3 separate regions of the Homo sapiens genome follow, and regions 2 and 3 are each linked to region 1. The links come from fine-mapping of genetic effects on gene expression. A gene starts in region 1. Each other region holds a variant in brackets. All regions are shown on one strand. Distances are between the middles of the regions. Region 1 holds the start of MRGBP (MRG domain binding protein). Region 2 holds the start of COL9A3 (collagen type IX alpha 3 chain). Region 3 overlaps NTSR1 (neurotensin receptor 1).

Region 1 (10,197 bases):
CTGTCCTTCTGCTGCGGGCTGGGGGCCTTACTCAGCTCCTGGAAGCTGCTGGCGGACCCCTGTCCCTCCATAGGCAGTGCAAAGCACGGCCGTTTTCTTTTCAAAGCCACCAGGGGAGTCTTTCTCTCTAGGGTGCCGAGTCTTATATAACCAGGATGACATGGGCAAGCCGTGGCTTCCTTCACCTTTGCCGCCATCTCTCAGTTGTAAGAAGGCACTTAGGGGAGAGGACCACACGAAGCCTGGGCCACCGGGAGGGTCACCCTGGGGACTGTTCAACACAGCTGATGCCAGTTCAGCGCCTCCTCAGGGCCCTCTCTCTAAGCACTGGCAGATATGGGGCAACACAAAGTCACTTTCACCTGCCATTTCCCAGCACCGCGGGTCCCTTGCTCATCCACCTTTGACATCTGCTGGCAGATACATGGCAAGGTTGGTGACCTCTTGAAATAAAAATCAGGAGTGGCCACTCCAGATAAATTTCTTCTGTAACTGCTATACCAATTCATTTCAAAACATTTAGGTAAAACTAAATCTGGATTTTGGACTTGGCCATGAGGATAGCTCCTCGCAGAGTTGTCCCTGTAATGATGGTGGTGGAAAGGTGGAGAAGGCCCCAGCCCAGCCCCTAGGGGACACTGCCATCTCCTAGCCCTGCAGGCCTGCTGGGCCTGGGAACTGGTGACATTCCTTGTACTGTGTGCCAGGGACAGCCGTGAACGCAAGTCTTCCAATCCTGGCCACAAGTACAGGTTAAGGACCCTCTGGGTGCTGGGCCCTAATCTTTGCTGACCTGTTGACCACTGTTAGCAGGTGCAGTCTCACCTGGCTGGAACCTGTGGACATGCATCACACTTTCTTGAAACGACAGTGGTGATGCCCCGAAGTTCTGGGGCGCTGGACATTTCTGTAAATCAACTTAGTGCAGTGGCCAGGGCAGGTTTCCCAGGGAGCCTGAGTGAGCTGCCTGACCTCCTTGTTAGATGATTTACAGGTGGGATCTGGTTGCAGCATCAGAATAGACTGTGAGGTGGAGTCGGGGGGCTCTGATGGGGACATTGATGGGTGCTGGGTGGTTGTATAGGGTTTGGGTGATCTGAGACTTGGGTGGTCAGGCTGCCCCCTCCACTGCCCCAGAAAACAGAAAGACAAGCATACTGGGTGCTGACAACATTGTTCTACGGGGACAGCATTCCCGCTGCTACCTACTGTCGGCAGGACTATAGAACCACTTCCCTAAAAAGAGTATTAGAGACATTGCCCAACTTCTGTTTTACAAATATCACCACACCAAATTGCTTCTTTAGTTGCTTTTGTGTTGTGTGTGTGTGTGTGTGTGTGCAGAGCTCATCTCGGGGGCGTGCTAATCCAAGAAGTGCAGGAGCTGCTGCAGGGGACTGTGCAACAGAATTGCTTCTTCAGAGCATCCTCTGCAGTCCAGTGACGCCCCGTGTGGCACGGCATTCCAGAAGGGTTTGCTGTTGAGGCTGGGGAAAGGGGCTCTCTTTCTCTGTCACATACTCACACACACACACACACACACACACACACACACACACACACACACACAGCTCCCAGGCACCCAGGAAGGGCAATGGTCTCTGCACACGCAGTGGGTGATGTGCCTGGAGCAGGCAATGCTCACAGCTAAGGAGCCCAGCAGAATTTTGTGTGGCTGGGAGCTTGGATTACAGCCTTCATATCTTCTCCAGGCAAGACCAGTGGCAGCCTCCTGATTTGGCCCAAGCATGCCCTGTCCTCAATCAACCAGCCAAGCAGGGAGCCTCGCTGCCAGTGCCCTGCCGCTCAGTATTTATTCGCTGCTATTTGGGGAGCAGTGGAGCCCAATTGCCTTTCCCAGTCACCCCTGGGTCGCCCTGGGTGGGCAGGCGGGGGAGTTCAGATCACTCCCACTCTCAGCCTTCACTGAGTCCCCACCCGCAGCTGCCAGCCATAGAGAAAATGTCTCTGCGGCAGCAGGTGCTCTTGGGCCCTGCGTGTTCCAGGTGTAGAGCCGCTGCTGAGGCTTCCAGGCTCAACATCAGCGGCGGCTTCTGACCCGTTCAGATCTTGTCCCGAGTGCACAGTGTACCACGTCTCGCCTCTACAGCAGCAGGCGCGTGAGCGTCCGTGCACGGGCCAGCCTCATGCCAGCTGTTTTCCTTTTCAGATTGGGGTTCAGTCGGCACCTTCTACATGACATGGTGGAGTGTGCATTACATAAAGCCCCCAGGTTACAGACAGGACCCCTGGGGCCAGGAGAGGGTAAGTACAGCGCTTACCAGGACTTGAGGCCACATCGCCCTTGCCCTGACACTTGTGAATTTGACCTGGTCATCCCACCTGCCAGCAGAGCATGAACTGGGCCTCCCCACAGGGAAGCCCAGAAGCCCCTGTGAGTCCATAAGGGCTGCGTGGCTCCTGACTTCAACCAGTCAGCCTCTGGTCCAGAAGGGAGGCCCGGGGCGGGGGCACGCTGCTCACCTGCCCAGTGGGCTTAACCTGTGGGCTCTAGCTTTCTCCTGGAAGTGCAGCAAAATGTTACAGTAATCGAGATGAGGCAGATTTATTAACTAGGCTTTCCTAGCACAATCTGAGGTCACCCGAGATGCGGTTTCAGATGGAGGTTTAGGACAGTGAGCCTGGGTGGCGAGCAGGACTCCTCCTGGCCATCCCGTGACACCCCGTGTTAGTATTTGCCCCCCTTTGCCCTGCTGCTTCTGGACTGCCTAAGAGCCAGGCTGCTGTCCCGGACTGAGACTCCAGGACAGGACCTGGCACAAAGCCCTGAATGAGGCTGACCTAACAGGAGAGATCAGACGGGCAAGGGGGCACACTTGGGCAGCAAAGGGAGACCCCACCCTTCCCTGGCTGCAGGGCTGAGTATTTGTGCTGTGAGTGGAGGAATGCCAGGCGGGCTCAGTCCTTTGGTCTATGTGTGTGGGGCCCTCCAGATGCCTGCTCTTTGTGGCAGGCTGTTACTGCAGGGCTGTGGATTTGTCCCGGCTCTATAGAAAAGGGACCCACAGGGTCCCCCCAGGCAGCTGCTCTACCCTTGGAATACAGCTCAGGCAGGCCGTAGACCAGCAGCTTCCCTGGGCTGTTCTTCCCCAGAACTGGCAGTGCGTTTGGTGCAGACGAGTGGCAGGTGCCACACGGGGCGATCACATGGCACGGGATTCCTGGCTTTGCCCCTTTAGTGGGTGCCTTGTGATCTGCGTCATGGTGAGGAGGACTTCAGGGACAGATGGCCAGGGATGTTCCCAGGTGGTGGAGGAGGCTCCACTGGCAGAGAAGCAACGTCAAGCTGAAGACATTGGGGTGCGATGGCTGGCCAGGACAGCTTGTCTCCTCGTCCGCACACGGAACGCTGGATTTCACTCTGTGACCCAGCCAGCGGTCTCATCTCACAGCCGCAGCTTTCAGCAGGAAGGAGCCCACTGGTGCCTGCCTGACCTACGAGGGCCCGCACCGTTTTGCCCTCCTAACATTTTGTATTTGAAGTGCTTGTCACAGTCCACAAAATAACCACTCAGAATCTGTTACTATTTTGTTTATATGTTGTATCAAGTGAATGTTAATAAGTCATCTAAGTGTATGCTTTAGTTATAAATCTTGGAAAAATAAAAACTTCCTTTTGGAGGAAAAGTGAACTTACTTTGGTATCAAAATCACACAACTCCAGGTTGGATTTTTTTGTGCTTTAATGTTCGCAGTCACACGAAAGTGGCATCTCCATCAGCACTGGGGCGGCCGCCTCCTCATCAGCCGACAGCTGCACGGTCCCCGCCTCTCATCCATTTGGTCTGTTTGCAAGTTACTAGATCATACAAAAATAACCGCTACAAATTCTCTGTATCTGGCATATAAAAACTGAGCAAAAAGTATCTCTTAAAGCAAAACATCTCAGAAAAAATACAACACAGGTTTAACTTCTGCAGTACTTTGTTCATATAAAACACTAGTAAAATAGGCTTCTTAAAAATTAAATAGTGAAATACCAACCAAATTATATACATTGTTACAGTACAAGTGAATGAGGCAAAATATCCAGTTCTTAGTTTCCCAGGTGGGTGGGGGTGGCCTTCAGTGCGTGGCACGGAGGGGGTGACAGGAAGGCCACGTTCCAATGTCACAGTCAGCGCAGAAAGAGGCTTGCAGCGGGACAAACAGATGGAAAGAACTGAGTCACACAGGGAAGACCAGGGGCTCCTTTGAGGAAGAGTGAGGTCATGTTTTTATTGCTTGCTAATCCGAGGTTTTCCCTGGCCCGATGCCCCTCTAGGTAGCCTGGATCCCAAATGCTGCAGCCCACGTAGCGCTAATCCATGTCACCAAGCAGCCACGGGGAAGCCACAGCTGCTCCAGAGAAGACAGAACTAGGCTTCAGAGCCCTCAATATCTGAGCTGGACCGATCCTGGTCTTTCAGGTCCATCAGGGTCCCACATGGTCCAACTGACACACACGTTTCCCCGCTGACGGCCACGTTCACCTGAGAGCCTGAGGGCGGGCAGTGTGGGCTCATGGCACTGGGATGGTATCACTGTGGCCTGGGGGGTGGCACTCAGACCCAGCCAACCCCCTCAGCGACCACAGTGCCTCGCCCGCTTCTCTGCCGCCACCAGGGCTGAGGGTCTACGTGCGGCGCCGCTTGGCAGCACTGGGACTGGAAGGGTTGCTGTTTGCGGTCAGGACTTTGTCGGTGACCCGGCTGCGCTTCCGCTTGTCTGCGCCTTCTTTGCACCCCAAGTCTGAGGAGTTCTTCTCTTTGTCTTTGCTGGATTTTTCTGATGCTTTCCCCAAACTCCCTGAAGATGAAAAAACTGAGAAACGAAAAATCACTTGGCTGAAAACAGAATATCCAGAATCTTATTTTTGTCTTCCTGTTCAGTTAAAAAAATCTGCATACTGACACGTGACCCTCTGAACCCAAAGCTTCCTCCTGAGCTGGGAGCCCCTTGCATTTGGGCCCACAGAGGGGCCTGGTCCTCCTGAGGACCTGCCTGCGGCGGGCACTGCAGGGACCGCCGCTCAGACCCTGGCCTACAACATGGAGCAGGCACTCAGCTCCTGGGGAGGGGGCACTGCAGGATCCATCCTGTGCCTAGATGACCTGCCTGGGGCCTCTGCACCGCAGGCTCTACGCCCACCTGACTGTGCCCTGCCTGAAGGCAGTCTTGGGGTGCTGAGCCCCAAAGGGCATCAGGGCAGGGTGAGCTCCACACTCACCATCGTCAGCCCCATTGTGGGGGTCCACGTCTTCCTTCATCTCCTCTTTCATCTCCTCTTCTATCATCACTTTTCCTGTGGAGGAGACAGCTGACGCTCACCGAAAACCCACGGTGGTGGCCGACGCTGGGGGATGGTCAGGCCAGGGACTGCTCCGACGCTTGCTGCCCACACAGGCCTCAGCTTCCGTCCAGCCACTGCTCTCAAACAAAGTCCTCTCCAATCCCGGAGGTTCCAAGACCACCCAAGCACAGGTAGGGCGGGGTCTGCGCTGGACCCTCACACCTCCCTGGAGGCCCGGGGTCCTCACCCTCACCTCCCTGCCCTTGGCCAGGGTCTGGCCTTTTCTGAATCCCAAGCCCAACCTTTCCCGAGCCTCACCTTCTCGGACCTCCTGAATGATCTCTTCTGGAAGGACGAAGTTCCTCTCTGGATTCGGGAATGGAAGAATCTCAGACTCATGCTGATATCAAATAGAGAGTTTTGTTTAAGAAACAAGGGTGAAGATGCAGTTTCAAGAAGTCACTAGAGCCGTGTAAGAGCCACTTGGGGAGAGGCCAATGAGCACACATCACTGTGTTGGAGGCTGCGGCGGGCGGGGCAAGGGCAAAGGGCATTTCTTCTTTTTGTGAACAGCGCCTGCCACAGCTGGGCTTTCCAGACAGACCCAGGGAGGGCAGAACCAGCGGCAGCAGATGCAGGAGTCAGGAAGACCCACCGGGGCCAGCATCACTAAGGCGGGCCCTGAGGACCGGGCAGCCCTGGTGACACACACCTGTGGGCTCCGCCTGCCCAGCACGGCCTGCAGTCTCACCATGAGACTGCGTTCCCCAAGGCGGCATGCAGAGGGCACAGTGACAGCCCTGGGGAAAGGCCGCAGGCACCTCGAGTTCTCATCCACGTGGCAGGAGCCCATGGACACCGAGGGTGTCGGTTGGGAGCGCCACAGGCACAGAACCAGGCAAAGAAGAAGAGAGTGCTTGCCAGGCACTGCCCTCCTGAGGTCGCACAGACCAGAGGGAGAGACCTATGTCATACTGATGGCCGGTGTGGCCCTGAGTCCAACGTGGCTGGCACAGACTCTCCACCAGCACAGGTCCCCACTCCTCCTGGTCACCTGACCCCTGACCCCCACCCCACTCTCCAAGTACACCACCTTCTTTGAGCTCCTGGACCCACCACCTCCTGCTGCCACAGGGCCTGGAACACCCACCTGTCTCTTCTGGCCACCCTGCTTACCTAGTTAACCCGCTCGCCCGTCACACAGTGCCAGCTCCAAGCTCTGCGAGGACTGGAACTCTACTTGTCTGACTCCCACAGAAGTCACCAAATTCACCTTGGTGTGACTCAGATAGGGTCACCCTCTGCCTAAAGCACTTCGGGGGCCTCCCAGGAGGCTGACAATGGCCTAAGGGCCCGGGACTCTGCATCCTTCCCTCCCTCCCCAGGGTCTCAGCTGGAGACTCTGGCCCAGCACCCAGTCTAAAGCAGAGCCCCTGAAAAGCTAGCCAGCTGCTAGCACTGTGTTTGTGCTTTCCATGACAGGCTCTGGAGCCCCGGGATGTCCTCCTTAAGGACGAGCCTCACTGCAGGGGTCTCTGCCCAGGGGACCCCAGCAGGCACGGAGGGGCCTCTGCCCAGCTCAGGCTGACCCTGAGAGCTCACTGCAGACCCCAGCAGGCATGGAGGGGCCTCTACTCTGCCCAGCAGACCCCAGCAGACATGGAGGGGCCTCTGCCCAGCTCAGGCTGACTCTCAGAGAGCGGTGTGCGGGTTCGTGCCCCCATCGGGCGGCACAGGGAGGGCGGTTGGGCTCACCAGCGCCTGCATGTCGTACATGGTGCTCAGATGGTCCCAGATGACCTTGGATGGGACCTGCCGCCCGATGTTCTGGCTGAACTTGTCCCGAATACAAATCATGTGGAAGTGTCGGTTCACACCTGAGGGGAGGAGGGGCGGCGGGATAACCGGTGAGCGGTGAGGAGAAAGGGGATGGAGGGGACGGGCTGCCCTGGGGACTGGAGGGGCAAGGGTGGCTGCGGAGAGATGGGGAGGGCCAGGGTGTGGAGGGGCTGTGGGGGGGCAGGGCTGGGTGGTGTGTGTGGGAGGGGGTGGGCTGTCCCGGGGCGGGGGTGGGGGTGGGGCACTGCGGGCTGGGACCTCGCGGTCTCACGGGGGTAGGGGTCGTGGGCGGGGTCCGGGGCGGGGTCCGAAGGGCGCGTGGGAGGGGGCGGGGGTCCCGGGACGGGTGTGGCGGCGGTGTCACGGCCCGGGCTCGGCGGGGAGCGTGGGGGCGAGGGTGTCGCGAGCGCAGGCCCCGCCCCGCCCCGCCGGTTGCCCGCCCCGCCCCCACGCGCGTCCGCAGCCTGGGCGCTCACCGACGGGCTTGTGGCCCAGCATGGCGTGGAAGAGGCACACCTCCACCTCGGGGCTCCACACCACTGTCTCCTCCGCCGGGCTGGTGGCCGCCTCCCCCGGGCCCTTGTCGCCTGCGGCGCCCCCGCCGCCCACCTCGGCCTCTCCCATGGCCGCGGCCCGGCCGAGCAAGGAGCCCCCGGCGGGAGCAGGCGCGGCCACGAGCTCCGCGCAGGCGCACTCGGGGGCGGGCGCGCGCTCCGCCGGGTACGCGCTCGGGCTCACGCGCCGGCGTCGGCGCAGGCGCAGCCGAGGTCTCGGGTCCCTTCCCGCCGGGGACTCCGCCCTGCTCCGCCCCGCGCGGGGGTTCTTAAAACGTGTTCCTCTTTAAAGCACAGTAAGAAATACACTGCACCCAAACAAAAAAGTCTGTGCTTCAAAGGAAACCATCAGAAAAGTGAAAAGACGACCCACAGATGAGAGAAAATATTTGCAAATCCTATATCTGATAATGAACTTCCTTGTAGAAGGTATAAATAATTCTTATAACTCGATAATAAAAAGACAATCTAACTATAAAACGGCTAAGGATTTGGATACACATTTTTCCAAAGAAGATGTACAGATGGGCCGGGCGCGGTGGCTCACGCCTGTAATCCCAGCACTTTGGGGGGCCGAGGCGGGCGGATCACCTGAGGTCAGGAGTTCGAGACAAGCCTGGCCAACATCGTATAACCCCGTCTCTACTAAAAATACAAAAAAAGTAGCCGGGCGTAGTGGCGGGCGCCTGTAATCCCAGTTACTCGGGAGGCTGAGGCAGGAGAATCGCTTGAACCCGGGAGGCAGTGAGCCGAGATCGCGCCATTGCAATCCAGCCTGGGCAACAAGAGCGAAACTCCGACTCGAAAAAAAAAAAAAGATGTACAGATATGGCTAATGAGCACCATCGGTCACGCGAAACTAGAATCAGCCCGCGTGGGGACCCCCTGCCCCGCCGAGACCGCCACAACCACGCGGCCGGGGTGACGAGTGCTGCGAGGGTCAGGGCTCGGGACCCTCGTGCGGTCGTGCTGTGCGGTCAGATGGGCCGCTGCTGCGAAAGACAGTCTGGCCGTTCCTTCAACGATGGAACCGTCTCCCTAGGAAGCAGCAGCTCCGTGGCGGGCGCCCGCGGCAGTGGAACAAGACACAGGTTCAGGCTGGGACCCGCAGCCGCGAGGCAAGCGCCGCCCCCAACCCGGGGCTGAACCTGCGAGGGGCGCCCGGAGCGCGGGCACCCGCACGGCGCAGCCGCGTTCAGCCTAAAAGCAGCGAGCGCGGACTGCGGCAGCGTGGGTGCGGGCTGAGACGAAAGTCAGAGAATTCAGACACGAAAATACACAGCATGGGAATCCATTCACAGGAAGAGCCAGAACTGGCAACTCCATAGGAATAGAAAGTAGATGCACGGTTGCCGGGGACGGGGGAGGGGGAGGGAAACGCGAGTCACTGCGGATGGGGACCGGCTTCTTTTTTGTTTGTTTTTGAGGCAGAGTCTCGCTCTGTTGCCCGGGCTGGGGTGCAATGGCACGATCTCGCCTCACTGCAACCTCTGCCTCTTGGGTTCAAGCGATTCTACTGCCTCAGACTCCCGGGTAGCTGGGACTACAGGCGCTCACCACGGCCGGCTAATTTTTGTATTTTTAGTAGAGACGCGGTTTCACTATGTTGGCCAGGCTGGTCTCGAACTCTTGACCTCAGGTGATCCTTCCTCCTCGGCCTCTCAAAGTGCTGGGATTACAGGCTTGAGCCACCGCGCCCGGCCGGGCCCAGCTTCATTTTAAGGAGGTGAAATGCTCTGGAATTAGATAGTGGCCACGGTTGCTCGCAACAAAACCCCACCGAATCGTGCGCTTTAAGCGGGTGAACTTAACGGTCTCAATAAAGATGTTAAGGAAAAAACAAAACCAGAAACCCCACAATTACTGCAGGCATAGGGCTCGCTGCCCGGGTCTGGGTGCGGGACGGAGGGGCTCACGCCCGCCCCCAGAGTCCAGCGCCTGCTGGGAGAAAGGGCAAGTAGGGGGTCCGGCCCTGCCGGCCTTGACCGCCTGCCTCCGACTCCCGGCCGCCGCGCAGCCCAAGCTCTGGGGAAGCGTTAACCGCGGGTCGCTGCGGAGGCCCCACCGCGGGGCGGGGCCGGGGCCGGACGGTGAAGAGGGGGCGAGATCAGGGCGGGGCCTAGGCTGGGGCCGGGCGGGGAAGCGCTCGGGAGGGCGGCTCGGGGGCGGGTCAGGGGCGGGGCCGCCAGGTCAAAACGCATCCATGACGAGCTTAAGGCGGCCTCCAATCAAGGCCGCCGCGGCCTCCGGCTCCGCCCGCTCCGCCTCTGCCTCCGCCTCCGCCTCCGCCCTGCCCTCACGGGCTTCTCTCCGCCCCATTCCCTCTCGGCCACGCCCACCACGGCCCACTGGCCAGGGAGCCGCTACGCAGATGTTTTCGCCTCTGCGGGTGTAGGCTCCGGGTCGGGCTTCCGGGTCCCTTTCCTGGCTCTGGCGCCTTCCAGCTGTGTGACCGGGCGAGGCCCTGAGCCTCTTGAGGGTTCAGTGCCCTCCTCCGTACAATGGGCCAAC
Region 2 (10,197 bases), 18 kb before region 1:
GGAGGGGGTATGACTTAGACAGAGTGGGACCAGCCCCCACCTGAGTGAGGTGCCCGGCTTCTCCCAGGGAGGTGGACACGCCCAGCTCCCACCAGCCCCCACTCCCACGGACTGTGCTGGTGTCTGCGTCCTGAGGTCGGGTCTGGATCATTGGCCAGGGCTTCTACCAACACCCACCAAGGTGGGGTTGGGGGAGAAAGGGAAAAGGGAGAGGGGAAGGGAGCCCCTGGCTGTTGAGTCTGGGGGTGGAGGCCACAGGTGAGCACACTCTGAGGGGCTCTGGGACAGCCACTCACCGGGGGGCCGCGGAGGCCGATCCCACCTGGGGGGCCGCTCACTCCTGCCTCTCCCTGGAGGGAAGTAAAGAGAGGTGGGGAGGTCTGCACCCGGAAGCCCCGAGGATCCCCACCCAGGGTTGGTGTGCCGCCTCCGAAGGGAGAGGGGCTCCAAGTATGGGGTGGTCAGATGGCTGCCCCTGAGAAGCCCCACCCCCAGGCACGGTTTGGGACATCCCAGCCTGGCAGGCTCTCGGGACTTGCGTGCTTGCTCAGGGCCCCAAGGGTTGTCAGTACTCACGGGGGGTCCAGGGAGGCCTTTGCCCTGCAAAGCCAAACATGGGGTCAGAGCCTGCCAGGCACAAGAAGGGCTGCGCCTCACCCCTCCCTAAGATGGCTCAGGTGGGTCCTGGGGAAAGGGCGGTTCCAGGGATGGGTGTCTGGTCCCAGCCCAGAGAGGGCACCAGGACCCCATCCAGGCACCAGCCTCCGGAGAGGCTGCAGATGAGAGGGCCAGGGATGGTCCCTGGGATTCCTGGAGGCCACCCCATTTAGACCAGACTCTCCAGCTCCCCAAACTCCCATGGAGAGGAGAGGACCACACTCCATACTCACCCCCAGCCCGGGCGGCCCCGGGGGTCCCAGACTTCCCTGTGGGAGGAAAGCAGGCGTCTAGGTTGGGCTGGGCCTCTATTTGCAAACCCAATCCCCTCCCTCTGAAGTGTGACGTCACAACTCCAACTCCCAGGACAACAGGGTCCAAGTCCCCACTTCACAGAGGGGCAGGGCCTCTGAGCCCTCTTGACCTGGAGGGTCTTTGCCGTCCTGGGGAGCTGCTGGAGACAGATGGCACCAGAGTCCCAGCGCTCGCTGCAAGAAGGTGCAACCTGAGGCAGGGCTGAGAGGCACCGAAGTGACCCGGGGTGCCTGTCTCCACCAGGAAGCCCTCCCGATAACCCACCCACGGAGCCTGCTGAGTCCTCAGCCCCCGCCCACGTCAGCGAGCCCCAGAGCCTTGGGCAGCCAGGCCCTGTCTGCCCTCCACACCCTCTGGGCCCTGTCTGGCCCCTGCTGCCTGAAATGCCTCATTCCCTGGACGGCACGCACGGGCCCTGTGCTGAGGCTGGAGGCCCCTCCTGAAAGCCTGGGGACCAGCCCACCCCACACCCCTGGGCACCACGGACTCGGCTGCCAGCAGCTACTGTTTCCCTCCTGTTTTCAGCTCAGAATCCGCCTCATGCCTGACGAGCTCCCAAGGGTCCCAAGGGCAGGGCTGTGTCCTCGTGTCCCCAGCCCAGCCTTCCTGCCCTCTGTGATGCTTTGCGCCTGGGGCCAGTGGCACCCGGTTGGCTGACAGCCACGTCTTATGAAGCCAAAGAGAGAATGCTGGCTTCGGGTTTGTACTCAGAAGCCACAAGGGGAGAAAGGCACCCTTGGGTGGTGGTGCCGCTCCGTCAGGGTAAAGGATTCAGTGTCCAACAGGCAGGCACAGGGGACTCTGCAGGCTGCGTGCCCGGGGGTCCCTGGTGGTGGTCTGCCCAGGGCCCTGGGGGCTTCAGGGACATTCTGAGGAGGCACCTGGGGTGGGTTCCCCCAAACCATCCCCCTTCTCCCTGCCATGGTCTGGATACCAGGACAACTCTGACCATACGTGGAGGTGAGGCAGGGAGGCAGGCACAGGGGACTGGCCACTTGGCACCCTGCCCTTCTGCCCCTCCACCCCAGGCACGGGCAGGGCAGCTGTCCTTGGAACTACCAGCTCCTTGGCCTTGTGGACACAGAGCAGCCAGAGGTGGCCAGGGGACCTCACCTCTGAACCCAAGCCACTGGGTTCGGCGCAGGCACTTACCCGTTCCCCAGGGGCACCCTTGGGTCCAGGGGGTCCATCTCGTCCAGTCAGACCCTGGGGAGAGGCAGAGGGCGAGCTCGAGGGGCCACATGGGAAGCACATGCCACCCCCCAGGCAAAAATGGAAGCACGGACCCTTCCCTTGGTGAGTCCAGAGAGGCATAGAAGACCCTTAGGGTGGCAGCCTCCTCTCTTGGCCCTGTCCACTGTCTGCCTGCTGTAGCCAGAGGCTCTGGGAGGAGGGAGGGGGCAGCCAGCGGGAAGCCAGCAACGGAGGCACCTGCTGTAGTCAGGCCTCGGGGACCAACCCAGCAGGACTGGACAGCTCACTTCTCAGGCCCGGCTTCCTCCGAACAAAACTCCGTGGCCCTGGGGCCAGGCCTGGAGCCCAAGATGACTAAGTGAGGCCAGCAGTGGGCAGAAGGTCCTGACAATGGGCACTCATTCCTGGACAAGCAAGGAGGGCTGGCGGGACTTCCGACTCCACTGGGCTGGCTCTGTCCCCTGCCAGATGCTGGTGGCGTCTGGGATGAAGGCCAAAGGACCCCTGTTGGGGACTTCTGGAGACTTCTCTCAGGACTGGGCTTCCCGCCTGAGCAGGCCCAGCTGGACAACAGCAATTAGGGCCGGACTCCTCCAGGGACCCGGAGCGGGGAGTGGGGCATGGCGGGGAGGGGCAGGCGCACTCACATCCACACCCGGCAGTCCCGGCAGCCCAGCCTCTCCTGGTTTCCCCGGCTTTCCTGGGGCCCCCTTTGGTCCCTGTGCAGGAGGAAAGGGCAGAGATGTGAAGGCGGGGTCTGGCCTGGAGCCCAGGCCTTCAGCAATGAAGCAAAATGCTTTCCACTTCCCCCCAGCCCAACCATACGGGATGGGCCCCTCTCCTGGGTCCCCCCTACTGTCTGGCAGACCCGGCTCAGCTGGGGCACGTGTGTCCTGCTTGCCCACACCTTGCTGGCCCAGGAAGGCTGCCCGCCCCATCCCTCAGTGGCATCTGTAAGACCTTCGTCTGGTCACCTCGGCCTCCCTGGCTAAGGGCCAGCAGGCATCTCTGTCGGACCCCCAGTGGGCCCAGACAGGGCTCTGAGCCCCAGGACCCTCAACCCCTGGAACTGAAGAAGGTGGGAGGGCTCCAGGTGACCTCAGGCCTGGGGGACCTGAAGGGCTGTACCAGCCCCGGTCCCGGCCTGCCTGGCGCTGGTCCAAAGAAAGCTTCAAAGCCAGGCCCTGCCCTGAACATGCAGAGGCTGAGCCCACACACTCCCCTCCCGCCCCGCTGGCTCCAGGCCTGCTCCAAGCCCTCTGAGGCCTCCCCTCAGGCAACCCGGGCTCCGGCAGGATGAGACAGGATATCAATGACCCCTCTGTTCTGAGTTCCCCCTTTCTCTCCAGACTGGAAAAAGGCTGTCTCCCCAGCCAGGGACACTCACCGGGGGCCCAGGCAGACCTGGAGGACCAGCTTCTCCCTGTGAGGAAAGACACCCACATGTAACCCTGAAAATCAGGGGTCCCTCAAGAACCCCGCCTCGGGGAAAAGAGCAGCGCTGGCCTCCAAATCAGCCCCAGAGGCCCAGCCCCAGCAGACAAAAGGGGCCCCTGAGCCCCCGATCCCTACCTAGAGGGCACCCTCCCATGTGTGGGGCAGCACTGGGCAAAGGGGTGAACTGGACAGACTGGAAGGAGGCTGTGGCCATTGAGGCCGAGCTGGGCAGGGGGGCAGAGGGTGGGTCATGGGGGGCTCTTGGTGCAGCCCTCCACAGCCCTCCACGGGGACCACACAGCGTGGACAGGCCCTGAGGGGACTCCTGCCCTGGTGGTGGTCACATGGGGAGGTTCACCCCAGACGGTCCCTCCGAGGGAGGCACAATTGTAGAATTTCAGCCGCCTCCTCCTGCTGCTTGGCCCACACCAGTCCTGAGATACCCATAGGGGACATCATCTCAGGACTGAGTCGGCTCCTAAGCCCCCTCCATGGCTGGCTCCAGAGCCCAGCAGCCTCCAACAAGACCCCCGGCCCCCAACCACCCAAAGGACGTGCCTCTCCCCACTTCAGCCAGAGGCCAGAACCCCGAACACAGGGGCACGGGCCCCTCAGGGGACCCAGAGACACACACCTCAGTGCCGGCATTCTGGGTGGAGGACCACCACATGACACCCTCCACCCCTACCCACCAGCAGTCCCCGCAGGGCCACCCCCATCCCGTGAAGGCACTGGCTGTCCCCTGATGTCACCCCGGCTCTGGGAGGTGGGGCCTGGTTTTCTCTCCATCAGGCCGGGGAGCTCAGGGAGGTGGGGGCCAGAGCCAGAACCCCAGAGCGCTCGGGGCCCTCCCCACCCCCAAACTCACGTCAATGCCGTCCTGGCCGGGCTTCCCGGGCGGCCCTGGGGGGCCGGGGGGGCCGGGGAGTCCCACTCTCTGAAACGGAGAAAACTCATTAAGGAGCGCAGGTGCCCCCGTGGGCCTGACCCGGCGTCCCCTCCTCCCGGGTCCCGAGCGGCTCCGGGGCCTGCGACGACCGCCGCTCTCCTCGGTGAGACCCAAAGCCTCGGGCGGA[GC/C]CCGGCGCCCCCGCGCAGTGTGTCCCCCGCCTCCCTCCGGCGGCGGGAACAAAGGCCCCCTTGTGCTCCCAGAGGAGGCGGCGGCGCCGGCCGACCCGGGCCAGCGAGGACCCATCGAGGACGCGGCCGGACGGGGCTCATCCCGAGGCGCTGGCGACTCCGCGCCCCGACGGCGACACGGGCTGGGGGCGTCGAGGCTGCGCCGGGCACCCCGGAGTGGCGGGTTCGGGGCTGGGGCGGTCGCGGCTCCACGTCCAGCCTCAGAGCCCGGAGCTCGCGCTCACCTGCGCCCCGGCGGCCGCCAGAAGCTCCCCGAGCAGGAGCAGGAGCAGGAGCGGGGCGCACGCGCGCGGCCCGGCCATGGCTGAGCGGAGTCTGAGCTGCGGCGTCGGGGCGGGCGGCGCGCGGGCGGGCGGGGCGGGAGGTGGGCGGCCCCTTCCCCTTCCCCTTCCCGCCCCCGCCTGCACAAGCCCCCCATTCAGCCGGGCCCACCTGGGCGGGGGGGCTTCCACCCGCCCCGCGCCGCCGCCCAGCCCGCCTGGGCGAAAACAAAAAAGACGCCGGGCGGGCGGCGCGTTCTCTCCGGCCGCGAGTTAAAATTATCCTGGGACTGGCGCGTTGCACACACGCAGCTTTGAGCAAGAGAGAAAGACGCTCTTTTCTCTCCTTGCTCCTCAACCCGAGTGTGGGGGCGGAAGCGCGCGGCGCTGAAGGGCCGCCTTCAGGGAGGGGCAGGGGAGACCCGCGAGTTTCCGAAGCCGCAGACCCCTCCCCAGGCGCCGGAGCGGACCCAGGCGACCCAAGGCCCAGGAACACCCCGGGGAGGGTGAATCCCCGGTACCAGGGCCCGGTCAGTGCCCAGCGCAGCCCTGGTTCCCGCTCCGGGGTCACTGTCCAGCGCTGCCTGCTGGGCTGGGAGCACCCCCACCGCGGCCCCTCACCCGTGGACCTGGACGGGCCGGGTGGTCAGGCCACGTCAGTTGCTACCGGCTAAGACCAGACTCCAAACCCAGACTCCCAGGAGAGATCGCAAAACGATGACCCTGGCCGAGGGGAAGAACCCCTCCCCGGGATCCCCGGCCTGAAGGAACCGTGCCCTGGGCAGGAACCTGAAGGCGGTGCTGGCCATGTCCATTTCCCAGAAGCTCAGGGGTCGCCAGGTCCGGCCAAGCTCTGCCTCAGGCTGCCAGGGCAGTCGCTGCCCTAGGGGACTCAAAGCTTCCAGTTGCCTGTAGGCTCAGTGAAGGCGCAGATGCCAGCCCCTCCCCCAGGAATCTTGAAAATTCCCGAGAAAGGCTGCCCTGGGGGTTGTAGGGGGCTGCAGGAGCTTCCTTTCGGCAGGTGGGGACTCATGACTGTTGCAATGCTGTGAGTTAGCAAGGGCGGGAGGGGATGAGAGGGGAGTGGGCGCAAAACTGCTCAGCAGGAGCACCGCACTCTGGCCGGGCGCAGTCAGCCTGGCGACAGAGGGAGGCCTCATCTCTACCAAAAATTGAAACATCGGCCGGGCGTGGCCAGCTTGGAGACAGAGGGAGGCCTCATGTCTACCAAAAATTAAAACATCGGCTGGGCATGGTGGTGCTCGCCTGTAGTCCACGCTACACGGGAGGCTGAGGCAAGAGGATCGCTTGAGCCTGTAAGGTCGGGGCTGCAGTGAGCCAAGACGGCGCCACTGCACTCCTGCCTGGGCAAGAGAGTGAGACCCTGTCTCAAAATAATAGTGTCGCTCTAATCTCTCCCGCGGTGAAGTGAGTGGAGGGAGATTCTCCCTTCACTGCTGGGTGAGCGCGGTGGCTGGGCTGGGAGGGGTGTGTGCGAATTCCATCAGGCGAGGTGGGAGGAGCTGAAAAGGCCCACCCTCCTGAGGAGTCCAAGTCATCCTGGCACAGAGCTTCCTAACAGAGGACTTTTGATTACGGGGAGAGGTGGGTGGAGCAGGTCAGCCCAGACAGCAGGGGGCCTTAGGGGCTCCCAGCACCAGCCCCACCCCAAGCCCAGGGTCTGGGGGACAGGATAAGTCCTCCCTACCAGTTCCACCTGGCAAGATGACCCTGTGGCCAGCCCCCTCCTCAGTGGCTCTCCCCTGGTCCCTGGCCCCACACCCCACTTTGCCTATCCCCATGATGCCCAGCATGCAGTCAGCAAGGACTGCTATCTGACCCAAATCAGACAAAACACAGCTGGCCTTCACCTCAGGCCAGGGGAGCCACCTCATGCCTGGGACACCTGCTTGGTGTCCCCCCCGAACCACCTTCAAGCCCCTCAAAAAACCACCCCCAGCTCCAGGCAGATCCTAGGCAGAGGGTGGGCACTGTCAGAGCTCAGCCTCCCCCGGCTCACTTTTGAGTGGGGCAGAGCCTCCTGCTGCCCGCCTGTTGTGGGTCATCACTCTCCCTGAAGCCCGGGTTGGCTGGCCAGCACTGCCTGCTGTCCCCAGGTGCCCACCGCCAGGCATCGGCCCCCAGGGCTGCTCCAACAGGCTCCTCACTTCAGGCGCTGATTTTCACCGACTCCAGCCCCACAACGGCCTGGACTGGGGACGCTGGATCTGCCGGGCGCTGCCCCAGTGACTGCACTTCTAGCCCTATGTCCAGCTCACTGCCTCAGTTTCCCTCCATGGCAGGAATCCCCTGAGCCACACTTGAGGCACCAGGGGTCCCACAGCTTCCCCACGCAGCTCTGGGGGATTATTGAACCTCGGGTGTCTCCTCCCAGTGACTTCCGGCTCGTGTATCCTGTGCCACCAGATGGGAGCTGGGCATTTTACCTGAAGTGGTACCAGGGTCTACAGCTTTAACCCTCCCACCCAGGGGTGCCCCAGGTCTGCCCTGTCCTTCACTGAGCAAAGACAAGTGTCCGGCCCCTCCTCTGAGGCCCCACAAAAAGCCCCTTACCCTGCTGATGTAGAAATGTAGGGGAACCGGGAAGCGGGGGGTCCTGGCCCAGGGTGACAAGGGCAGACTGCAGGGAGGGACTGCCCTGGGGGCACACCTGGCTCCACCAGACCTGAGGGAGCCAAGGGGCCCGCCAGAGAGTACTGCCAAGCCTGCCCGAGGCACAGCAGCGCATCCCAGATCACAGCAGGCAGAAAGGCCTGGTCCAGACCCCACCATGCACAAGCACTGCCCCGGCCAACCCCAAGGGAAGCCCCAGACTCATCTTGAACAGGTGGCAAAAGCCTGCTGAGGGACCTCGGTTCCACCTTCAGAGGCTCTGGGAGGCTGCAGCCTGCCCACCTGTTCATGCCTGGGGACTGTGTGGCCAAGTGGGTGTGTGGGGAGGGCTGGGCCACCACTCTGCCCCCACAGGCACCTGGTGGAGCAATGTGAGGCGGTCGCCGGGCCAGGCCACTGGAGCCTGGAGGGACATCAGCTGTGACACCAGCCCTACCAGCCACCCAACAGGACCCCGGTCCATACCAAAGACTCAAAGTCAAATGAATTTATTCAGAAAAGGCCTTGCTTGGTATCAGACTAAGAAAAGCAGCCCTGCCCGCCGCCCCCCACTCCAGAAGGGTCAATTTACAAAGACAGGGGCGCAGGGGAGAGCTGGGTGGGGAAGACACAGCCAGGCCAGGAGGCTTCTGCAGGCCTTGGGCTTCCCTGAGGGCCTCGCGGCTTCTGGTGGCTGCTATAGTGGCCCCACAGGAGGCCAGCACTGTGGGTCATGGGTCACGGGTCACGAAGCAGAGCCTGAGGGGAGCCCGCAGCAGCTCCGGAGGCCCCAGCCCCTGCAGCAGGGACAGGAGGACCAAGACGCCGACGGGCACTCCTTTCCTTAAGGCTTCCCAGACTTGGCAGAAGACTCCACCTCTGCGTCCTGCAACTCTGCTGCCTCCCCCGCCTTGGCTGGCTCATCCCTTGTAGGTCCTGCCGGGCTGGGGCCTGGGGTCTCCGATGGGCTCTCGGCTGGCTCGTCCCCTGCAGGTCCTGCCGGGCGGGGGCCTGGGGTCTCCGATGGGCTCTCGGCTGGCTCGTCCCCTGCAGGTCCTGCCGGGCGGGGGCCTGGGGTCTCCGATGGGCTCTCGGCTGGCTCATCCCTTGTAGGTCCTGCCGGGCTGGGGCCTGGGGTCTCCGATGGGCTCTCGGCTGGCTCGTCCCCTGCAGGTCCTGCCGGGCGGGGGCCTGGGGTCTCCGATGGGCTCTCGGCTGGCTCGTCCCCTGCAGGTCCTGCTGGGCGGGGGCCTGGGGTCTCCGATGGGCTCTCGGCTGGCTCGTCCCCTGCAGGTCCTGCTGGGCTGGGGCCTGGGGTCTCCGATGGGCTCCCAGGGGTACCTTCTTTGGGCCCCGTTCGACCTTCTGTGTCCTCCTCAACCCCGTTCTCACTGTGTCCAGCCTTGGGGTGCCCCGATGGGGCAGGGGACCCGGCAAGGGCCAAGGTCTGGGCACCACCACTGGCCACCGCAGCACTGTCCCCAGCACCCTCATCCACCTTCCTCCGCTTCCTCACCTTGTCGGCCACCCTGGCTCCCAGGGGTTGGCGGCAGGGCTGCACTGCCTCCCCAGGGTCCTGACCGCCCACTTCCTGGGTCCCCGTCCTGAGGCTGCCCTGGCTGAGGGCACACCCCTCCAAATTCAGAGCGATCTTCTCCACCTCTGAGGCACTCTGAGGGCCTGGCTCTGTGGGCGGCTGCTCCCGCCGGCTCAGCTCCAGCTTCCTCTTCTTGCTCTCTTTGGGGCTTAAGGGCTCCGGCCTATCTTCCCCGTGGCCCCCTGCCTCATCCCCCTGGCTCCTCTCCAGGGGTCCCGCATCCTGGGGCTCCACGCTCCGTGGCTGGGGCCCCTCGTCCACCCTGCCCCCACCCTTGCTATGCTCTGGCCCACAGGTCCGACCCTGGGTGCTGGCCTCGTGGTCGGGGTCCCCGGGGCTTCCTTCCTCCTCCACCTTCCTGGAGCCCTCGAGCGGATGGGGCAGAGAGCTGGGCTTGAACCTCCGCAGCTTGTCTTGGGGCCCCCAGACGAACTTGCAGCGGGGCCGGAAGTGCTCCCAGGCGAAGTGCACCAGCTGGCGGCGCTGGTGTCGGCAGCGCACGGCGAACATGAAGTAGTCCAGGGCACTCTGCCGCACCCCCGGCAGCTCCCGCCGCACCAGCGTCTCCTCCAGGAAGAAGCGGACCAGCGGCGCCTGGAAGTGCTCGAGGCCCAGCTCACCCAGCGACTTGAGGATGCGTGTGATGCGGAGGTTGTTGTGGCTGCGCCTGCGAGAGATCCGGGTCAGGAGAGGTCAATGGCTGGGGCCCCTCCTGCTGGGCCGCACCCCGCCCTGGCCTGCCCTCCCACCCGGCTCCACGAGGTCTCCCCACCCTGGCCCACGATTCAGTCTCTCTCTCCATTTACCTCTCTGGGCCCAGGGGAGGACTCATGCCATCCCTGTGAAAATGGCCTGTGGGCCCTAGACACACGGGGGTTAGGGGGATGCTGACGCATCACCTAGAGGGTGGCTGTACCCCGAGTCCCCCTGGTGGGGAGGAGCTGGCTGGATGAGAGCCACAAGGGGCCCCTGCAGGGTACAGGCGCC
Region 3 (10,197 bases), 55 kb after region 1:
AATCCTATAACTCATTTATTTATGAATGGATTAATCCATTCATGAGGGTCCAGTCCTCACAGATCCCATCACCTCTGAAAGGCTCTACCTCTCAATCCTGCCACACTGGGGATGAAGTTTTAATAAGATTTGGAGGGGACATTCAAACCATAGCACCTTGTCAAAGATGATTTGACTGTACGAAAGTGGGTTTATTGCTGGGCTCTCTGTTCTGTTCCGTGGGTCTATGTGGTACTAGTACCATGCTGTTTTGATTACTATAGCTTTGTAATATAAAAGGAAATTAGGAAGTGTGATGCCTCCAGTTTTGTTCCTCTTTCTTAATGTTGCTTTGACTATTTGAGGTCTGTTGTGGTTCACTATGAATCCTAGGATTTTTTTTTCTATTTCTGTGTAAAATGTCATTGAAATTTTGATAGGGATTGCACTGAATCTGTAGATCACTTTGGGTAGTATGAAAATTTTAACAATATGAATTCTTGCAATGCATGAACATGAGGTATCTTTCCATTTATTTGTGCAATTTCTTTCATCATGTTATATTCAGTGTACAGGTCTTTTACTTCCTTGATTAAATTTACTCTTTTTGATGCTATTGTAAATGGGATTTTTTTTTTTTTTTTTTTTGAGACAGATTCTCATTCTTGTTGCCCAGGCTGGAGTGCAATGGCACAATTTTGGCTCACTGCAACCTCCGCCTCTCAGGTTCAAGCAATTCTCCTGCCTCAGCCTCCCAAGTAGCTGGGATTATAGGCACACACCACCACGCCCAGCTAATTTTGTATTTTTAGTAGATACTGGGCTTTGCCATGTTGGCCAGGCTGGTTTCAAACCCCTGACCTCAGGTGATCCACCCGCCTCGGGCTCCCAAACTGCTGGGATTACAGGTGTCAGCCACTGCGCCTGGCCCTCTTGATTTCTTTTTGGGATAATTCATTGCTAGTGTATAGAAACACAACTTATTTTCATATGCCAATTTTGTGTCCTGCAACTTTATTGAATGTGTTTATTAGTGCTAACAGTTTTTTTTTGTTTTTGTTTTTGTTTTTGTGGAGTCTTTAGGGTTTTCTATACATAAGTTCATGTCATCTGCAGAGACAATTTTACTTCTTCCTTTCTGATGTGAATGCCTTTTACTGCTTTATCTTGCTTAATGGCTCTGGCTAGGCCTTCCAGGACCATGTTGAGTAGTGCATCCTTGCTTTGCCTGACCTTAGAGAAAAAGCTTTCTACTTCTTATCACTGAGTGTGGTGTTAGCTGTGGGTCTGTCATACGTGGCCTTTACACTGAGTGTGGTGTTAGCTGTGGGACTGTCATACGTGGCCTTTACACTGAGTGTGGTGTTAGCTGTGGGTCTGTCATCATACGTGGCCTTTACACTGAGTGTGGTGTTAGCTGTGGGTCTGTCATACGTGGCCTTTACACTGAGTGTGGTGTTAGCTGTGGGTCTGTCATACGTGGCCTTTACACTGAGTGTGGTGTTAGCTGTGGGTCTGTCATACGTGGCCTTTACACTGAGTGTGGTGTTAGCTGTGGGTCTGTCATACGTGGCCTTTATTGTGTAGCATGCATTCAACACCCAGTTTGTTGAGTGTTTTTATCATGAAAGGATGCTGAGTTTTGTCAAATGCTTTTTCTGTATCAAATGAGATGATCAAATGGCTCTTGTCCTTCCTTCTGTTCATGTGGTGGATCACATTTACTGATTCATATGTGCTGAACTGTGTTTCCATCCCAGGGATAAATCCCACCTGCTCATGGTGGATGAGCCTTTCAACATGCTGTTGAATGAAGTTTGCCAGTATTTTGTTGAAGATTTTTGCCTCTTGGTTCTTTTCTCATAGCGTCCTTCTCTGGCTTTGGTATCAGGGTAATGCTGACCTTGTAAGATGAGTTAGAAAGTGTTCCTTCCTCTTCACATTTTCGGAATTGTATAAGGACTGGTGTTAATTCTTCTTTAAATGTTTGTAGCATCCATCGGCGAAGCAACCTGGCCCTGCCCTGGGGTTTTCTTTTTTGGGAGGTTTTTGGTAACTGATTCAATCTCCTTCTTTGTTATTGGTCCTTTCAGATTTTCCATTTCTCGCGATTGACTCTAGGAAGCTTGTGAGTTTCTAGGAATGTATCCATTTTTTCCAGGCTGTCCAGCTGGTTTGTATAAAATTGTTCACAGTTTATTATGATCCTTTTGATTTCTGTGGCATCTTGTAAAGTCTCCTCTTTCATATCTGATTTTAGCTATGTCTTCTCTCTTTTTTCTTGGTTAGTCTAGCTTCCCTCCACCTTTCTCCCTTCCTCCCTCCCACAAACATCACTGCCTTGGAGAAGCCATAGGAGCCCCTGCCGTCAGAGGTCTTGGATCCTGGGGAGGAGAGACCACTGAAAGAACCACCTGCAGTGACTTCAGGGCCAATAAGAGCTACAGACACAGCGATGCTGGCGGCAGCCTGGCTGCAGTAGTGCTGGGGGTTCCGGGAAGGCCTCTGCTTGGAGGTGACTTCTCATCTCTGACCTGATGGCACCCACAAGCCTACAGGGACCCTAAGCTCTCCTGGCAGACGGTCCAGCAAACTCACAGACCTGAGAACTCAGGGGGTGAGAACTGAACAGGAAGCAGACGGCCAGGCTGGGGTAGTGTGGGGGCCTGGTGGTGACCCGCCGGGCGGCAGCCTTGACCTTCCCCCTGGCTGACCCCTTCTCTGACCTCTGCTAGTGTGGCCCCCGTCCCTGCCCAGGCTGAGCGTCTACCTCTCTAGGCGTCTCAGCCCTGGCCACATAGGGTGGCCTTGAGGGACTTTGTCCAATGGACTCAAGCAGCTTGAAGGCCATGCAGGGCCGGCCAGAGGATGCCTCAGCGCCACTGATGCCACAGCACCCTGGCGCCTTTCGATTTGTCTCTAAAGAGAGCAGGGAGTCACCTGGCCCAGCCCCATGAATATTCTGGGGGACGCGTGGTGGCTGGGACTCCCAGACCGCCTGGCTTTGCAATTCCAAGCAGCAGGGGAGGGTCATGGCCAACAGCAGGGAAGCCCTGGGGACGGCGAGGCTGTTCAGCAGCTGTAGAGAAGGCCATCCAGTCCCAGCGAGGTCCACGCCAAGCTGGATTTGGAGGCGAGGCAGAATATGTGTCTCTGTCTGTCTTTGTATCTTTCTCCTGTGATGTCTCTGTGTTTTTCTCTGTGTTTTTCTGTGTCTCTGTCTCCTTGTATGTTTTCCTTCCTGTGTCTGTCTCTGTTGTGTCTCTCTCTGTATATCTGTGTGTTTTCCTCTGTGTCTCTGTCTTTCACTGTTTTCCTGTGTCTGTCTCTGTCTGTGTGTCTCTGTTGTTCCTGTGTCTCTATCTCTGTATCTCTGTGTCTCTGTTCTCCTGTGTCTCTCTCTGTCTGTTTTCCTGAGTCTGTGTCTCTATCTCTATATCTCTGTGTCTCTGTCTCTATCTCTGTCTCTGTTTTCTTGTGTCTCTGTATCTCTGTCTCTGTGTCTCCCTGTGTCTGTTTTCCTCTATGTGTCTGTTTCTCTGTCTCTGTGTCTCTCTCCATGTCTCTCTGTGTCTCTGCTTTCCTCTCTGTGTCTCTCTCTCTGTCTTTGTGTTGCTGTCTGTCTGGGTCTCCCTCTGAGTCTGGTGTGTGTACCAACATCCTCAGGTGGCAGGAACTGGCTGGGCCACCCTCCCTGGAGCCGGCTGGGTAGCTGGGCTCTGGGCCATGGGCCTCAGTGGCTGGGTCTGAGGTTTTAGGGGTGGATGTTCCAGAGCAGAAGGTCATGGTGGGAGACAGGGGTGTCTGCTGTGACAGCCGTGGTGGTCTGGAGGTGGGGCTGCCTCCATGGGAATCTCATTCGTGCTTCTGGCAGTATCCTCTGCTGTGTGCACCCCTCAGCTGCTACCCCTTGCCTCCTAGCCCTGTCTGGGTCTGGGAATGGCGTTTGAGTGGTTGGTAGGGCCTCAAGCCTCTCAGAAGCAGCCGAATGCCTGGGGTTTGGTGCCAGAAGTGGGGGCCTGGCTTG[T/C]TCCCTGGCCAGCTGTGAGCTCGGCAGGTCCTCCTGGGCCTCAGGCTCATTTCTCTCTTTTTTTTTTGTGAGACTGAGCTTTGCTCTTGTTGCCCAGGCTGGAGTGCAGTGGCGCGATTTCTGCTTATCACAACCTCCGTCTCCCAGGTTCAAGTGATTCTCCTGCCTCAGCCTTCCTGAGTAGCTGGGATTACAGGCATGTGCCACCATGCCTGGCTAATTTTGTATTTTTTTTTTTTTTTGAGACGGAGTCTTGTTCTGTCACCCAGGCTGGAGTGCAGTGGTGTGATCTCAGCTCATTGCAAGCTCCACCTCCCGGGTTCACGCCATTCTCCTGCCTCAGTCTCCCCAGTAGCTGGGACTACAGGTGCACGCCGCCATGCCTGGCTAATTTTTTTGTATTTTTAGTAGAGACAGGGTTTCACCATGTTAGCCAGGATGGTCTCGATCTCCTGACCTCATGACCCGCCCACCTCGGCCTCCCAAAGTGCTGGGATTACAAACACGAGCCACTGCGTCCAGCCCCTCAGCCTCATTTCTAAAAGAGCGAGCCTAGAGGTGCTGCCTCAGTTCCTGGAGCACTGACTGTGCTCCCTTGGGTGTGGGAAAGGAAGCAAATTGGGGGGCACAGGACTGCGGCTTGGGAGGCTGGGATGGGACACGCTGGGGCGACGGCTGGTGGGGCTGGACCTATGGGAGGGACAGCCTGGCCTCTGCCCCCTCGCATGTGTAATTTTGATGGGGAGGACGGAGGTGGAGTGAAAGGTTAGATAATGAAACAGCAGGTGTGTTAGGGGGATCTGGACCGGGGCGCAGCCTCTGGGTGGTTGGTCTGAGCTTGGCCGTGGAGACCAGGTGGGGAGCGGGAGGGGTGCACACGGTATGCCTGCCCACAGGTGAGGGCACAGCCAGACAGCAGGAGGGTGCCCCCGACACAGGCTCCAGACAGCCGGCCTCAGCCCCTCGACCTCAGGCAGGGCGTTCTCACCTCGCTCTTCGAGAGCAATTGCTTGTTTTGTATTCTGCCTTTCTCTCTAATTCATCCCATTGTGTTTAGATCAAGAGACAGCCCCAGACTGGCACACTGCTTCCCGGCTCCGCAGCCAGCCTGTGCTGAGTGGGAAGGTGCAAAACCCTTTTGCTTTGCAGAACCCAGAGGCTTTGTAAGATGGCTGCAGAGGCTGCGGGGCGGGTGGGAGGGGAGGCTCCTGTCCACACCCTCCCAAGGGGGTGACCGCTGGGGTGGCCTTGCTGGGCTGGCAGGGGATCGCCCTCTCCCTGAGCAGATGACCAGCCCCAGCAGGGCCCAGGCTCACGGACGGTCTTTTCTAACCTCCCAGACAGACTCCAGGTGGAGAGGCCCCCACTAGACCCAGCAAACACTGACTTGGGAGCAACCCTCAGGGTTCTCATGACCCCGAACTGCCTTCCCCACCACAGCTGAGGCCAGGAACGATGGCAGAGTTAATTCAGAAACCCTGTGTGCCAGGGCCGTCAGCACAGGCTTGTTCGAAACCCCAATGATTGGTGAACAACTCAAAGGCTCACCCTTTGGGGCTGGTCGCCATGGCATGACGCACCCACACCACGGGGCACTCAGCTGACTGGACCGGGGGCAGGGAGCAATGAGGCAATGGGTGGGCCTGAGATGGCCGGGATACGTGTCCAGCAGGGGCGGCTCCGTGCTCCCCTCCCAGCCTGACTCTCTGGATTGGAGCCTACCGAGCTGATCTGGGGAGAGGGCAGGGTAGCTGGGAGGGTCTCAGGTGTGTCCCCCAAAAGCTAGACTCCCACAGTGAACTACCTACACAAACAAAGCTAAACTCAGAGAACGTTCCACTTGCCTGTGCTGTGGGTATGTCCCGTGACAGGTGCCCTGGGATGAACAGGAACCCCACGGCCACACCAGAGCCACTGTGACCACCTCACAGCCCTGGAACTGGGGAAACACTGCGGGGAGAGGGATGGGAACCCTGGTGGGTCTCTGCTCCCCATGCCAGAGGTGGGGTGCCAGGGCCAAGAGAGCAAAGGGGTCTTTAAGGTGACACAGCCCAGCGCTTTCCAGGAGTGAGGTCATCCAGGAGGCTCTGACCAGTGGCTGTCCTCAGAGGAGACACCATGGAGGGACCCAGGGAAAAGCAGCGGCCACCCACAGGACACCTGAGACCTAGGGCCCTGTGTAAACAGGTGTCTGGGGAGCAGAGGACGGAAGGCATAAAGAACTGCCAGTGTGACCTTGTTCTAGAAGGTTCTGGTAGTGGCCAGCTTGGGATACTGTGCTGTCCCTCAGTCCCCAGTCTCTTTCCTCGGTCCTCCCTCCCAGGCATCTAAGCAGTACCAGGCCCGGCTCGAGATGCTGCTGGGATCTGGAATGCAAAGCTGTGGGACTTGCTGCCCAGTGGGGACACGCCTGACTCATGGTGGATGGGGGCCTGGAAAGCCGTACATTGCCGCGTGGTCAGCAGTGACCACAGACCTGGCCTGAGGAGGAGCCCACACACCACCTCCTGGAACGCCAGCATTTCTGAGTCCCTGAGGGCAGGACTGGAGAGAGAACAGGCGTGTGACCTGGAGGGGCCATGTCAGCCACCTCGGTGTCTGTGGGACCACTGTGGGGAGGGGATGAAATGGACGGCGCAGCTTCTGGCTAGTACTTGGCCCCTCACGACCCCGTCCACGCCTCCATCAGAGAGCTCTGATGTGCAGGTTTTGGCTCAGTATTAAAAATAACGGTTTGAATTCCTCTAACCTTCACTTTCTAGCTGACATCGACTGTCCTGGGGTCTACACATACTCTGTGTGCACCACCTCAGGCACACAGGTCTCATCTGTGAGGCAGAGGCTCCTGTCAGGCTCCTTTTGTAGATAAAGAAACCCAGGCACAGTTGTGAACCCAGGGGCCTGATCCCACAGCCTGAGCTCCCACTTCCTCCATCAGGGGCCATCCTATGAGCAGATCCTCATCCCCACTGGTGAAGCTTTGTGGCATGTACCTCACCTGAGCAGATGCCTTCTGTGGGCCATTGCCAGGTTTTGAGAGCATCTAGTCCAAGGCTGTGGCTCCTTGGCGACCTCTCAGGGACTGAGCCTGCCCCACAGCCTCTGTCCATGGCTCCTCCACTCTGTTCCCTGCACTTTTCTTCTGGTTTGGAATTTCTGGGAAAGGCTCAAGAGAATGCCAGAGCCCCAGGGAGCCTCAGGGGTTCAGTACCATGGACAATGCCCAGGCATGCTCGAAGGGGCGCACAGACATGGGGTGGGAGGAACATGGTGTGGGGCAGGGGGCCGGTGTAGGGACCCCCAAGCCAGCTGGGGGCAAGGACCCCATCAGGAGAACTCTGGCCACCTGCAGACCCGTCCTCTGAGCGGGGCTGGTGAGTCACCCGTCACCTCTGCAAGAGGTTTGCCCTCCTCTCCTCTTCCAGGCAGCAGGGAGCCCTGAGTGTGGGAGTTGGAATCTTTTCCCTCCTGATTGCTGGAGCTATAGAGGCCATTGTCTGAGTGGGGACTTGGCAGAACAGAAGCCCCTGGAAGCCACATCCTGTCTGTGCCCGGCTGAGCTGCGGGACTGGCAGCAGCCTGGCTGCCGGGAGACCCCTGACTTAGCAGCCTGGCTGCCGGGAGACCCCTGACTTAGCCCAGAGGGCCTTAGTCAGATTAGGGAAAGAGCCTTCCTGACACCCTTGCCTCCTCTACCTGTGCTGGGCAGGTGCCCTCCAGGACAGGAGGAGGGGAGGCCCCTGGCCCTCAGCCCCGGGAACGGCCCTCCCCTCGCTGAGCCTGGCCGGGGCCCAGAACCCCAGTGTGCCCCATTAGTCACTCTGAGGGCAGTGCTGGGGTGGCGAGTTGCTTTTCAGCTGCTCCAGCACTTCTCAAGAGTAAATCACAGGCAGCGGCAGGTGACAGCCAGCGGTTGAGGCTGCGGGCTGCAGGTCTCTGCCATGTTTTCAAATATCTGCCAGCTTCAAGCCCATGAGAATGCTCACACCCACAAGGCATCTGCTGGGAAGCACGACAGGGCTTTAAAAACTCTTGACAAGCCCAGGAGGCTGCGCAGAGCAGTGAGTGAGGGGTGGAATTCTGGCCCCGGTCACGGCCCCCACCTCTCTGGGGATCTGAGCGGGAAGGATCCCTGGTAGGGCCTCGCACTCCTGTTTCTCAGATGAGGAAACCGTGGCCAGGTGGGGGCTCCCCTGGGCTCGAGTCCACAGCTCTGGTCTCCACCCTCAGACTGTCGGCACAACCCTTTTCCCTCCCGCCTGCACGGCTTGTAAGATCTGTCTCCCGCTCACCCTATGACTAAGAATGAGCCCCACAACCCTTTTCCCTCCGGCCTGCACGGCTTGTAAGATCTGCCTGCCGCTCACCCTATGACTAAGAATGAGCCCCACAACCCTTTTCCTTCCGGCCTGTGCGGCTTATAAGATCTGCCTGCCGCTCACCCTATGACTAAGAATGAGCCCCACAACCCTTTTCCTTCCGGCCTGCACGGCTTGTAAGATCTGCCTGCCGCTCACCCTATGGCTGCGAATGAGCCCGTTCGATCCGGTTTGCTGAGGCTTTCGTTCATACTTTTCTAAAACGCAGGGCACTAACGTGACAGATCAGAAGTGGAGCTAACACACTTAGCACAGAGCGCTTTGGAGCCCGGTTCCTTGAAAAAAGCCACACCATCCGGAAAAGTTCTCTGCTCCATGCAGGAAAAGCCCAGAGACCTGCAAACGCAAGCCCTGGGTTTCCGGGGAGTTTGTGCAAAGCCCCAGCTGTGACCAAGGAGGAGCTGCTGTGATCAAGGGGGAGGCCCTGCAGCTGGGGACGAGGCGGTGCGGCCAGGGGCCAGCAGTCCCAGCACGACTTAACTTTCCATGTCAGAGCACAGATTTGGAAAAGAGCAAGTGTTCCCAGTTGCCTGCGGGACAGCATATGCGTCCCGCACCCCGCCGGCCTGTTCTCCAGTTCTGGCCGTCGCCGGCCGCTGCACCTCCAGCCCCACGGTTCTCTGTGTGCTTTTCTGCCATGCAGACATATGGGCATCAGGCACATCCTGCCCCTCCCAGCGCCTAGTGGCCACGCCCTGGCAAAGCTGGCCGCCGTGTCCCACAGACATCTGGCTCTACACAGCATCTCAGCGGTGTCAGTGGAATTAGTGTTCTGCCCTGTTGTGGTGAATCTGATTATGGTGAACACACAGAGCCAAGTGTCCTCACCCACCGGAAGAGGCCGTAGGGGTGAGAGAGGAAGGCCGGGGGCGGCCCCTCACACCCCCAAGTACCTGCATGGGAGGGACTGACTCAGTGACACCTGGCTCTCCTTGCTTCCCCAGCTGCCCAGCCCCTGGGCTCAGGGGGCCCCAGGCTCTGGCTTAACCCCAGATCTCCACCCTTTGTGCTTCAGCCAGGCCCCTTCTGTGTGATTCCAGGGGCTCCAGCCTCTACCCTGAGTGGCCGAAAGGAAGGGCCAGTGCTCTGGAACAGCAGTGGGACCCAGGGCCACCCCATCCAGTGCCGAGTCTGGGATCTCAAGAGCATAGGACGTGGGAGACTTGGTGAACCAAGAGGGCCCAGGGGCCAGGGTCAAGCACAGCCAGAGGGGGCCTGCTGCCCGGAAGTGTCCTGGAGAGCCTCTCAGCCTGTCCCGGTTCAGTCTCAAGAGCCCAACGGGTCCCCAACGGCGCCACACGACATGAGGTTCCACACGCGTCTCCCTCACAGCCACGCAGGGCTTTCCTTTACAACAGTGAGGAGGCTTGGCTTTTCTGTTTTATGAATGGCTCAGTGCATGAAAACACGCGTGTGTAAAAGATAGATCACTGGGGAGGCGACAAGTCCCAGCTTTCCCATTTCTAGATCCTAGAGTCAAGAACAAGGCAGCCCAGGATTTTGGCCTCGCTGAGTGACCCTGAGCATATTTCCCTTCTCGTGCTGGCCCTGTCTCCTCCTCATGATGGAAGGGGATGGGCTGGTCCATTTTGGAGATCTCTGGCCTGAGACCTAGACCCTCCGCCATCTCTGCTGCCAAGAGCAGCAAGGCTGGAGCCACCTCGAGGACCAGCGTGAGCCTGGACGTGTTCCCAGCCTCCAGCCCGGGTTCCTGCCATGCTAACCCCGCGGGCAGAAGAGAGGCAGTGCACAGGGCTCCCTGCCAACACAGGCACGGCTGAGGCCTGTGGCCACCTTGCAAGGTAGGAGCCC

What was found. PIP is the estimated chance that this variant, and not a neighbour inherited with it, causes the effect.
Region 2: its variant is fine-mapped to the expression of MRGBP in whole blood (TOPMed, PIP above 0.99).
Region 3: its variant is fine-mapped to the expression of MRGBP in fibroblasts (GTEx, PIP 0.91).

What each region holds. Positions count from the first base shown.
Region 1 is chr20:62,794,083-62,804,279 of GRCh38, reverse strand. MRGBP (MRG domain binding protein) reads right to left here and starts at 7,807. Exons shown (of 5, transcript NM_018270.6): 1 at 7,609-7,807; 2 at 7,049-7,170; 3 at 5,612-5,693; 4 at 5,231-5,305; 5 at 2,551-4,824. The coding sequence starts at 7,756. The coding sequence ends at 4,637. It overlaps OGFR-AS1 (OGFR antisense RNA 1), which reads left to right. Exons shown (of 3, transcript NR_102430.1): 2 at 2,171-2,265; 3 at 3,201-3,653. LOC105372716 (a long non-coding RNA gene) reads left to right here and starts at 9,999. Exons shown (of 4, transcript XR_936986.3): 1 at 9,999-10,197. RefSeq lists silencers at 7,501-8,040, 9,502-10,091 and enhancers at 8,664-9,210, 10,182-10,197.
Region 2 is chr20:62,811,910-62,822,106 of GRCh38, reverse strand. It overlaps COL9A3 (collagen type IX alpha 3 chain), which reads right to left and starts at 5,057. Exons shown (of 32, transcript NM_001853.4): 1 at 4,965-5,057; 2 at 4,472-4,540; 3 at 3,554-3,589; 4 at 2,814-2,885; 5 at 2,125-2,178; 6 at 891-926; 7 at 577-600; 8 at 297-350. The coding sequence starts at 5,042. OGFR (opioid growth factor receptor) reads right to left here. Exons shown (of 7, transcript NM_007346.4): 7 at 8,107-9,877. The coding sequence ends at 8,458. RefSeq lists enhancers at 2,755-3,442, 3,443-4,128, 4,817-5,502, 6,191-6,877. The variant GC/C (reference allele first, on the strand shown) is at 4,680.
Region 3 is chr20:62,738,606-62,748,802 of GRCh38, reverse strand. All of the region lies in intron 1 of NTSR1 (neurotensin receptor 1), which reads right to left. Among named protein-coding and RNA genes, the nearest start is that of NTSR1-AS1, 8.3 kb to the right of the region's middle. RefSeq lists enhancers at 8,235-8,863, 7,844-9,043. The variant T/C (reference allele first, on the strand shown) is at 4,007.